2 separate regions of the Homo sapiens genome follow, and region 1 is linked to region 2. The links come from fine-mapping of genetic effects on gene expression. A gene starts in region 2. The other region holds a variant in brackets. All regions are shown on one strand. Distances are between the middles of the regions.

Region 1 (5,386 bases), 21 kb before region 2:
ACCCAGGCTGAGTGCAGTGACGGCAATCATAGCTCACTGATGCCTCGATCTCCAGGACTGAAGCAATCCTCCCACGTTGGCCTTCCAAGTGGCTGGGACTACAGGCGTGCACCACCATGCTCAGCTAATTTTTTTTTTTTTTTTTTTTTTTTTGGTGATGACAGCCTGGGAAACGATAATTTGAATATCCATTCAATCATTCTGTTTTTCACCGTTTTCTGTACAGTATTCAATAAATCATACCAGATACACAACACTTTATTATAAAATAGGCTTTGCGTTAGATGATTTTGCCCAACTGTAGGCTAATGTAAGTGTTCTGAGCATGTTTAAGGTAGGCTAAGCTATGATTTTTGGTAGGTAAGGTATATTAAATGCATTTCTGACTTACAAGATTTTCAACTTACCATGGTTGTATTATGATATAACCCCATTGTAAGTCAAGGAATGTCTGTACTACAAACACGGCTGCCTGGGCCCCAACCACTGAGTTAGGTGTAGGCAGGCAGGCACTCACAAAATGTCTATCCTGTGGAAATGTGCTTGTAATTTTTGACAAGACAACTTGTTCTGGTGGCAAACAAGTTCTGAAAATTGTAATACACAAAAGTTAGGTTATGGCAAACAGAACTCCCATAACTTGACTTACTCCATGTGGGTAGGCTAGTGTTACAGGGAACCAGAATTTTCTAAGACTCTCAACTAAACTTATATCATATAATTTTCTCCTTTCTCAAGTTACAGGACATCTTCGGCACATCATTAACAATGCCATGAATATATGAGAAAGAATTAGAAATTAACTTTTCAATGTTAAAGTCTGAAAGAGAATTTCACTCACAAGTTTGAGATATACATGTATCTTCAGTTCTCTGCCTAAAGAGAGACTAATAAGGTTTATCACTTTAAATCTGAAAAGCCCCTCCTCAAAGAGCTTCAAATATTTGTTTGTAATCTCCTTATTTTAAAGGGACAATTTGGACAAATGAACATGTAGTCCTTCACAACATCTGTAATGTTGACTGCATGACCCTGAACTAAAATATCAGCATTATGGCCAGGTGTGGTGGCTCACGCCTATAATCCCAGCACTTTGGGAGGCCCAGGCAGGCAGATCATGAGGTCAGGAGATCAAGACCATCCTGTCTAACACGGTGAAACCCCGTCTCTACTAAACATACAAAGAATTAGCCGGGCATGGTGGCGGGCGCCTACAGTCCCAGCTTCTTGGGAGGCTGAGGCAGGAGAATAGTGTGAACCCAGGAGGCAGGGCTTGCAGTGAGCTGAGATTGCGCCACTGCACTCCAGCCTGGGCGACACAGCGAGACTCCGTGTGTCTGTCTGTCTGTGTGTGACTCTCTCTCTCTCTTCATATATATATATATATGTATGTATGTCAGCATTATTCCTGTCAGGGGTTGACAAACTTTTTCAATAAAGGGCCAAATAGTAAATATTTGTGGCCCAGATGGTTTTTTATCACAACTATTTAGCTCTGCTTTTATAATATGAAAACAGCCATGGACAACAGGTAAATGAATGGGTGTGACTGTTCCAATAAAACTTTACTTACAAAAATAGCTGGTCATATTTTGTTAGCTCCTGAAACATATGGTCAAAAATAGCTACAGTGTGGCCAAGCATGAATGAGCTCCTCTCTGACAACAGACCACCTTATAAGTTTCAGTGGAGTTCTGTCTCCCACCATGAAAGCTGAAAACACCAAATTTTTATTTTTCCAACCTCCCATACAACAAAGGCAGGGGCAAATTATTCAAGTGTTACCAATTAGACATATTCATCCCAGACTTTAAATCAGAAGCTAGTGACACCGAGAAGCAAGAACTGCATAGAATCCGCTTGGGCAGCCAGTGGCTGCAGCAGGGTTGTATTAGTCCATTCTCACACTGCTATAAAGAACTACCCGGCTGGACACAGTGGCTCACACCTGTAATCCCAGCATTTTGGGAGACTGTGGTGGGTGGATCACCTGAGGTCAGGAGTTGGAGATCAGCCTGGTCAACATGGTGAAACCCCATCTCTACTAAAAATACAAAGATTAGCTGAGCGTGGTGGCAGGTGCCTGTAATCCCAGCTACTTGGGAGGCTGAGGCAGGAGAATCGCCTGAACCTGAGGGGCGGAGGTTGCAGCAAGCCAAGATCATGCCACTTCATTTCAGCCTGGGTGACAGAGCAAGACTCTGTCTCAAAA[A/AAAC]AAAAAAAAAAAAAAAAGAAAGAAAGAAAAAGAAAAAGACTACCGGAGCCGCGGTAATTTATAAAGAAAAGAGGTTTGGCTCATGGTCCTGCAGGCTGTACAGGATGCATGCCTGGGAAGGCCTCAGGAAACTTAAAATCATGGTGGAAGGTGAAAGGGAAGCAAGCACATCTCGACATAGCCAGCAGGAGAGAGACAGCAAAGTAGAACAAAAGTGCTACATGCTTTTAAACAACTCAAGATCTCAAGAGAATGAACTCTCACCATCACGAGAACAGCAAGGGGGCAAATCTGCTCCCATAATCCAATCACCTCCCACAGGTCCCTCCCCCATCACTGGGGATTACAATTCAACGTGAGATTTGGGTGGGGACACAGAGCCAAACCATATCAAGGGTCTACAACATACGCAATGGACAGTACAGGTGGTCCACAGTGCAAACTGTGGCACTCACTATTCACTGCTAGTAGCAGTAGTATCTACCAAATCTGTGATAAGGGTCACAGACCCAAGCCTGTTTTTCTAGTATCCCAAGCCTAGCCCCAAGTCTGGTTTTCCAGTATTCCAAGTAATTCTGTAGCTACCCAGAATCCTTTCAGTAAATTATTTCTTTCGATTGGCCAAAATTGGGTTCTGTTGCATGTAAGTAATAACCCTGTGAGATCCTGAACCAGCACAATCAGCATCATTTAGGAACTTTGTAGAAATGTAAATTATCAGGCCTCACCCCAGATCTAGTCAATCAGAATATCTGGGTTGTAGGGACCAGCAGTCTGTGATTTAATAGGTCCTACAGGTGATTCTTCTGCACACTAAAGTTTGAGAACCACTGTTTATAAGTGGGATCTATGTCACTCTGGATTGTCTGACCTATTAATAGCGAAAGACAACAAGCATTAAGATGCCTAGTAAATCCTAGTCCCTTTCTTTGTGTACCTAGTTTGAGGGTCACAAGAATGCTAAGCATTCACAAAACAGAATAAAGAATGGTTGTAGTGGTGAGCTGATTAATTCTTTTTCATATGATGTGGGGGTTATGGCATTTTGTTTACACAGGACAGCATGGAGTTGTGGAGTCTGTAATGCTGAGCTTGGAAAAGGGTTTCTTGGGGCTTTTGTGTCAATTATCTGCAAGATAAGCTTGAGGTACTATATTATCTATTAGGCATAAAGTCACAAATAAAAAAAGAAAGAACCCTGACAGAGTCAGACTGGAAGTCTTACAGACAGTCTTCGGCAGTAAAAAATTTAAATGCTAGATTCAAGGAGGTGCTAATCATTTACGCTGAATGCACTTGAAAGCTGCTCTATGTAGCTTTCAAGAGGGAAGTCGGCTGGGTACAGTGGCTCACACCTATAATCCCAGCACTTTGGGAGGCAGAGTGGGCGGATTACTTGAGGTAAGGAGTTCACGACCAGCCTGGCCAACATGGCAAAACCCCGTCTCTACTAAAAATACAAAAAAATTAGCTGGGCATGGTGGCGCACACCTGTAGTCCCAGCTACTTGGGAGGCTGAGGCATGAGAATTGCTTGAACCCGGGCACGGAGGCTGCAGTGAGCGGAGATCACACCACTGTACTCCAGCCCGGGCAACAGAGCAAAACCCTGTCTCAATTAAAAAAAAAAAGAGGGAAGTCATGAGAAGGGTGGGAAAACTATCCACCTGGCATATCCTGACATCCCAGATCAGTAACATCTGATTCAGCACTAGTTCTGTAACTGCAACAAAATACTGCAGAAATTGTCCAGGGGTATTAGAAAAACAAGTACCAGCTCAGGATTAGGGAATAAAATAATGGGTTCTACCTAGGGGCGAAAAAAAAAGAAGAAGAAGGTGAGGAAGTGGTGATGACTTGGTACTTCCTAAAACAGATAAGCTACACCCTCTCAGCCAGTAGTTTTTATAGCGAAGGTGGGATAAGCTGAGGTGGGTGGACAGCTGCCATTGTATAACAAGACAACTCTTGTATACCCTTTAAACAATTCTTACTTACAGCATTCATTGCAGGTATATTCTGTGGATTTTCAATTTAGTTGTTAAATGAAAATAAACTCATATTTGGAGCACTGTATAAACAAGTAATTACTAATTTAAACATATATTTCTAATTAAGCAGGTTGGAATTTTTTCCCCTTCCTTAGTTTACAATGTTATGCCAAGCAACTGTGCTGCTCTCGGAAACTCCATTTCCCAATTCTCCTCACTGTCCTTCTACAGGTGTTTAGAAAATCAACCAAAACTTGGAAAACTCAAACTGGGATGCTTAAAAAATTTTTGCATTTTTCTGGTTCTTAAAGTTTAAAACAAGTGAATTTCTTACCTATGATACACTTAATTCATCACATACAACGTTTTTTCTCTGACACAGGCTCTCGCTATGTTGCCCAGGCTGGAGTACAGTGGCACAATCACGACTCACTGCAGCCTCAACCTCCCAGGCTCAAGTGATCCTCCCTCCTGAGACTCTCGAGTGTGCCACCACCCCCAGCTTTTTTTTTTTCCTTTGTAGAGACAAGGTCTATGTTGCCTAGGATGGTCTTGAACTAAGCTCAAAGGATCCTCCTACCTTGGCCTTCCAAAGTGCTGGGATTATAGGTGTGAGTCACCGCACCCAGGCACACAAAACTTTCAATAAAACATCATTATCCAAAACTTTCATTAACCAAGATATTTTATTCATTCTCTTCTTAACCTAGAAAATAAATCTATCCCAGGAATTTTAACAAAGAAAAATGTCCCAGGATAGATCCTAAGGTCAGCACAAATTCAACTGTATCATACATACATTCTGCAGCTATGGTTCTATAATGAAAAGTTATGCTGAGGAATCTTCTACAAATCATTTGGAAGGCAGTCTAACAATGTGGAAGACAGCTGGATGCAGTGGCAGATGCCTGCAGTCCCAGCTACTCAGGAGGCTGAGGCAGGAGGGATCACTTGAGCCCAGAAGTAGGAGGCCAATCTGGGCAATGTGGAGATACTTGGTCTCTAAAAAAACAGCACCACACACACACACACAAAAAAAAACCCAATTTGGACTCTGGAGACAACCGTGTTTAAATTATGCCTATTTCAGCTCTGTTAGTTACTACTTGTGTAAACTTGGATAATCTGCTTAACGTTTATTATCTGTACCACAGAAAAGATAAAATATCTCTGAACACAAACGA
Region 2 (5,386 bases):
AATGTAAGTCTTACTAGGGCAGACCTGCTTTGTTTATGGATACAACATAGTGCACAGACTAGTGCCTTCAGCTGCTAGACTCCCAATAAGCAACTATAGAGCTAATATATTCATAATAGACCCTTGGGAGTCCAGTAAAAGGACCTTCTGAAAACAGAAATGAACTTGGGAGAATTTTGTCAAATTATTTATCACAAACAAATCATCACTAGGATTCAGATTTCCTTCTTCATACTTCTTTACCCCAAACAAATTCTACACTCATTCAAAAGCACTACCAATGCATCAGTTAACCTCTTATGCTGCTAGATGTCAGGGCTACATTCTGTGTACTGTGGGCAGCTGTTTAGCATTCCCTTGAACAATGCTTCTGTTCCAATTAAGCACAATAAAGTACTTAACACAGCACACAGTGGCCAACATAACTTTATGAACAGTTTAGAAAATTTCCTAAGGCTCAAAAATAGGCAATTTCAGCCAGGCGCGGGGCTCACACCTATAATCCCAGCACTTTGGGAGGCCGAGGCGAGCGGATCATGATGTCAGGAGTTCAAGACAAGCCTGGCCAACATGGTGAAATCCCGTCTCTACTAAAAATACAAAAATTAGCTGGGCATAGTGGCGTGTGCCTGTAATCTCAGCTACTCGGGAGGGTGAGGCAGAACTACTTGAACCGGGACCCAGGAGGCGGAGGTTGCAGTGAGCAGAGATCGTGCCACTGCACTCCAGCCTGGGCTATAGAGGGAGACTTTGTCTCAAAAAAAATAAAATAGGCAATTTCAAAATAAATAATTCTGCTGTTAAAGAGCAGTAGGATTTTTCCATTAAAATGTGAATTTAGTAGCACAAGTAATGTTGAAAATTAAAAGCAGCCGGGCAACTTGGCTCACACCTGTAATTCCAGCACTTTGGGAGGCCAACGCGGGCAGATCACTTGAGGTCATGAGTTTGAGACCACCCTGGGCAATATGGTGCAACCCCGTCTCTACTAAAAATACAAAAAATTAGCCGGGCGTGGTGGCGCCTGCCTGTAATCCCAGCTACTCCGGAGGCTGAGGCAGAAAAATCGCTTGAACCCGGGAGGTAAAGGTTGTAGTGAGCCAATATCGCGCCATTGCACTCCAGCCTGGGTGACAGAGTGAGACTGTTTCAAATAAAAAATAAAATAACATTAAATTAAATTAAATTGAAACCTGCAATACACATCGTAAGCCTTGTATAATACTTTCCAATGCTATAAAGGCTGTAAGATAATTCGCCTACTGAAATTCATAAATCAGCTCACATTGACTTCAAGAATCATCATAAGGAAACAAACACTCATCGAATTATAAATGTATATCTCAAAAAGAGAACTCTGGAAAGTGGTAGAATTTGTGTTGTTCCTATGCAAACATCAGGATCTTCAATAACATAATTTGACCTATCATGGCTTCCGTTGTGACCTGAATAATTGTCACGACCCAAAAGGTCAGCCCAACGTTACTGAGACTCAGTATGCAAAACACTACATATCTGAAAAACTCCAAAGTGAAGAATTAACCAAAGCATTTCATTTCATTTACTGCAACTTTAAACAAAACAATCCAATAATCCACTCACACTGTTTAGTGTTTTGTTTAGAAAATATGTCCCACTTGTTATAGAAACCTCCAAATCAAGGAAAACCTTCCCCAAAACCTTAGCATTCTACCGGGATAAGCAAAGCTAACAGGTTTTAGTTATATGCCTGAAAACTAGCCTTCATGAAGGTCGAATGAAAAATCTTTTAAGCTGATGCCATAACTGTTAACTCGACACAGCAAATTTTGGATCCAAGTACAAAATACTGTAAAATTTCCCAGTGACAGTCTGAAAAAGTACCTACAGTGGTGTTCTTTAAACATGCATCATCTACTACAGAATTCACCATTTGACTGGATGTAAACTTTTAAACTAACTTTGAAAACTTTATCTTTTTTTTAGGCAACTGTACAATATTTCAGAGACCTTTAAAGAAAAACTATTTCTAAATTACATGGCTGAGATACTTCCCTTACAATTTCCATCTCGTTTTTCATAGTCTACTTAAACGAATGGGCATCTAACTGCGAAACTCATATTACCCAACTCAGAAAATACGACTTAGTAATGGTGCTTTCTTAACGACACTCAGAAGCCCCCGGCAAGGACGGGTACGCGGGTTAAGACCGCATCACAGGCAGGAAGGGCGGTCGGCACCCTGCTGGCGACAAGGGCCTGGGTCAGGGAAGAGACTCAAGCGAACAGATTCCCAGTAGCAGGTGCGAGACTCTGGCAAGAGGGCAGTCGCCGCGGATTTCGGACAGACAGGAGGATGCTGTCTACTGGACTGTGAGACGCACATAAAGGTCAACCAGCCTCACCTCGGGAGTCCGCTCGGGTGGCTTCTTCCTCAACGCCTGCCTAGCGCCAGGGTCCACGGGTGAGTTCATGGCCACGGCCCGGGTACTCCGCAGCCTGCCCTTAGCAGCCCACGCCACAGTTCATTCACACTAGGTAGCGGGTGCGGTACCTTTCCCCCGCCCCAAGGAGGGAACTTCGCGCCGTAACAAGGTCCGAACTCTAGCAAACAACCCTTCGCAACGCCCGCCTAAGGCCTCTACCCACGCGCGACTGGCCGGAGACAAGTCTGCGCGGGGGCGGGGGAGAGTAAGTGCGCATGCGCAGCACGCACGCGCACGCTAAGAAACGCCCAAGGGAGTAACTCCACTGTGACGTTAAAATTGGGGCGGTGCGAGTAAGTCGTTTCCTGCTGTCGTCGTGAGATTTAAAGACACCTCGCGAGACCTCACCTAAATCAGTCACGGGGTCTGCCTTGGCGTTGTGGTTCCGTCTTCTCCATCCGTTGGAGACACCGGAAACGCGCTGAGGACCTGAGCAAAAATAGCATTTTGGGGCAGAACCGTGGGGAGGCGTTCTGACTGGAGAGAACTGTTGTGCCCAAATCCGGAAGCCCAGGGTGTGGCCAAGTCCGGCTTTGCGCTCTCCTCTGCAACTTCTACTGCCGACTTTGAATATGCGGAAGTAGAAGCCGCCATTCGGCAAAGAAGGAATTCCACGCACACCTCATATCTCTTTAAATAAAACGAGATCTCTTGTGAAAGCTGCCGACAGAGAAGTGCTTGATCTATTCGAAACGGACGTCCTGAGACCAGGGCAGAGAAAGCAAACATTCACGGCCAGGATAGGCAGCCGGTGCCGCGGCCAGCTCACGATTACCTTTGAGTCAAAAAACTAGATTTAGACTGCGTTCTTGTAACTAAATGCCCGGGGCAGCCCTCCCTCAGGCAACTGCGTTTAGGGTTGGGACTCGAGTGGCAACTTTTGCAATACTTTTTACATTCTAGTCTGCTTCCCAACAGACCGAATAAAGCCAGTTTTGTTTCACTGCTCCCTTGGTAAGAAAAACAGACCACCCTTAGGAGCAGCCAGAGAGCTGCTGAGGCCGTTTCAACAATAAGCTCACTGACAATTCCAGAATCCATCGTTCTAGGATACTCCTTACCCTTTCTCATAAGTTCATAGGTAACTAACTTTGGCGACACCACCTTTCCACTGAATTTTAAGCTCCTTGATGGCTGTAACTACATCTAGGTACACCTTGGTATTTCTCACAGCAGTTAGCATAGTTCACTAAATAACAAGGTGATTTATGATTATGACATGCTTTCCAATTAATGACTGCTTCACAGTAATTTTAATGACGTAATAAGAGTTAAAATTATATTTGAAAACAATGAGAGTTCAGGCTACAACACCGTTTCTGGGACCGGCAATGACTTAAGGACTGTTTTCTGTTGGTCCTGGGGCTTGCCCAAACTGGGAGTTTACAACATACTATTAGCATTTCTCTTTTTCAGGTATAGATCAAAAACTTTACCAGCGAAGTGTGGCATAGCCATTGTAGAAATAAAGTAATTGTGGAAAAAATCACAGGATGTTGCAGACGATCCGTTTTCCTCATTTTTTGTACAAATATAACCTCTCAAAGATCTGCCCAGGATCACAAACAAAAGTTAACCCTTCCATTCTTCAAGGATCAATTTTCAGAGTCACATCAATATTTTGAAAGAGGGAGAAAGAACTATAAAGCATGATCACCATGAACTTGAACTTTAGGGGCAAACAGACCTAGAATTTGTGTCTCTAATATTAGACCTCTTCTAGTTAAGTGACTTGAAGTTATTTAACATCTCTGAACTTCATTTTCCTTATGTTAAATGGGAATATAGTAAAGGACCTATTGCTTCAGAATTTTCTTAAGATTACGCGAGAAAATTCACATGAAGCACTTAGTATGTTGCCTTCATTTTCCTTATGTTAAATGGGAATATAGTAAAGGACCTATTGTTTCAGAATTTTCTTAAGATTAAGTGAGAAAATTCACATGAAGCACTTAGTATGTCACATGAAGCACTTAGTAAGATTACGTGAGAAAACTCACGTGAAGCACTTAAGCACTTAGTATGAAGCACTTAGTATGAGAAAATTCACATGAAGCACTTAGTATGCTGCACAATCCGAGCACTCCTTATTATTTCCATTATTTTGCCTCTAGGAAGTGATTTTTTTTTTTTTTTTTTTTGAGACGGAGTTTTTCTCTTGTTGCCCAGGCTGGAGAGCAATGGCGCGACCTCGGCTCACTGCAATGTCCCTTGAACTACTCGGGAGTTCAAGGGATTCTCCTGTCTCAGCCTCCTGAGTAGCTGGGATTACAGGCGCCCGCCACCACGCCCGGCTAATTTTTGTATTTTTAGTAGAAATGGGGTTTCACCATATTGGCCAGGCTGGTCTTGAACTCCTGACCTCAAGTGATCCACTCAATTTGGCCTCCCAAAGTGCTGGGATTATAGGCGTGAGCCCCCGCTCCCGGCCTGGGAAGTGATTCCTCTAAAGTAGAAATTCAACTTTGAATAATTGAATAGATTTTTTTAATACAGTTTTTTTTCACTTATAACAATTCAGAAACACATTTAAGTATTTGTGAAGATGTGGAGCAAGAGGAACTCAAACTGCTGGTTAAGTGCAAGTTGGGAAGTCACTTTTGGCAAAAAAAAAAAAAAAAAGTAATAAAGTTGAAACATAACACACCTTATGACAGCAAGTCCTTTCTTTGATATATGCCCTATAGCAGCAGTCCCCAACGTTTTATGGCACCAGGGACTGGTTTTGTGAAAGACAAATTCTCTATAGGGGTTAGGGGGAGGGTTTCAGTATGGAACTGTTCCAACTCACATCATCAGGCATTATTAGATTCTCATAAGGAGCATGCAGCCTAGAGCCCTCACATGTGCAGTTCATGATAGTGTTCCTGTTCCTAGAGAATCTAATGCCCCTGCTGATCTGACAGGCGGAGCTCAGGCAG

The links. PIP is the estimated chance that this variant, and not a neighbour inherited with it, causes the effect.
Region 1: its variant is fine-mapped to the expression of RAPGEF6 in whole blood (INTERVAL, PIP above 0.99).

The regions. Positions count from the first base shown.
Region 1 is chr5:131,612,074-131,617,459 of GRCh38, forward strand. All of the region lies in intron 1 of RAPGEF6 (Rap guanine nucleotide exchange factor 6), which reads right to left. Among named protein-coding and RNA genes, the nearest start is that of RAPGEF6, 20 kb to the right of the region's middle. The variant A/AAAC (reference allele first, on the strand shown) is at 2,213.
Region 2 is chr5:131,632,578-131,637,963 of GRCh38, forward strand. RAPGEF6 (Rap guanine nucleotide exchange factor 6) reads right to left here and starts at 2,652. Exons shown (of 28, transcript NM_016340.6): 1 at 2,385-2,652. The coding sequence starts at 2,453. RefSeq lists enhancers at 1,842-2,424, 2,372-2,461, 2,554-3,753, 2,762-3,011, 3,022-3,221.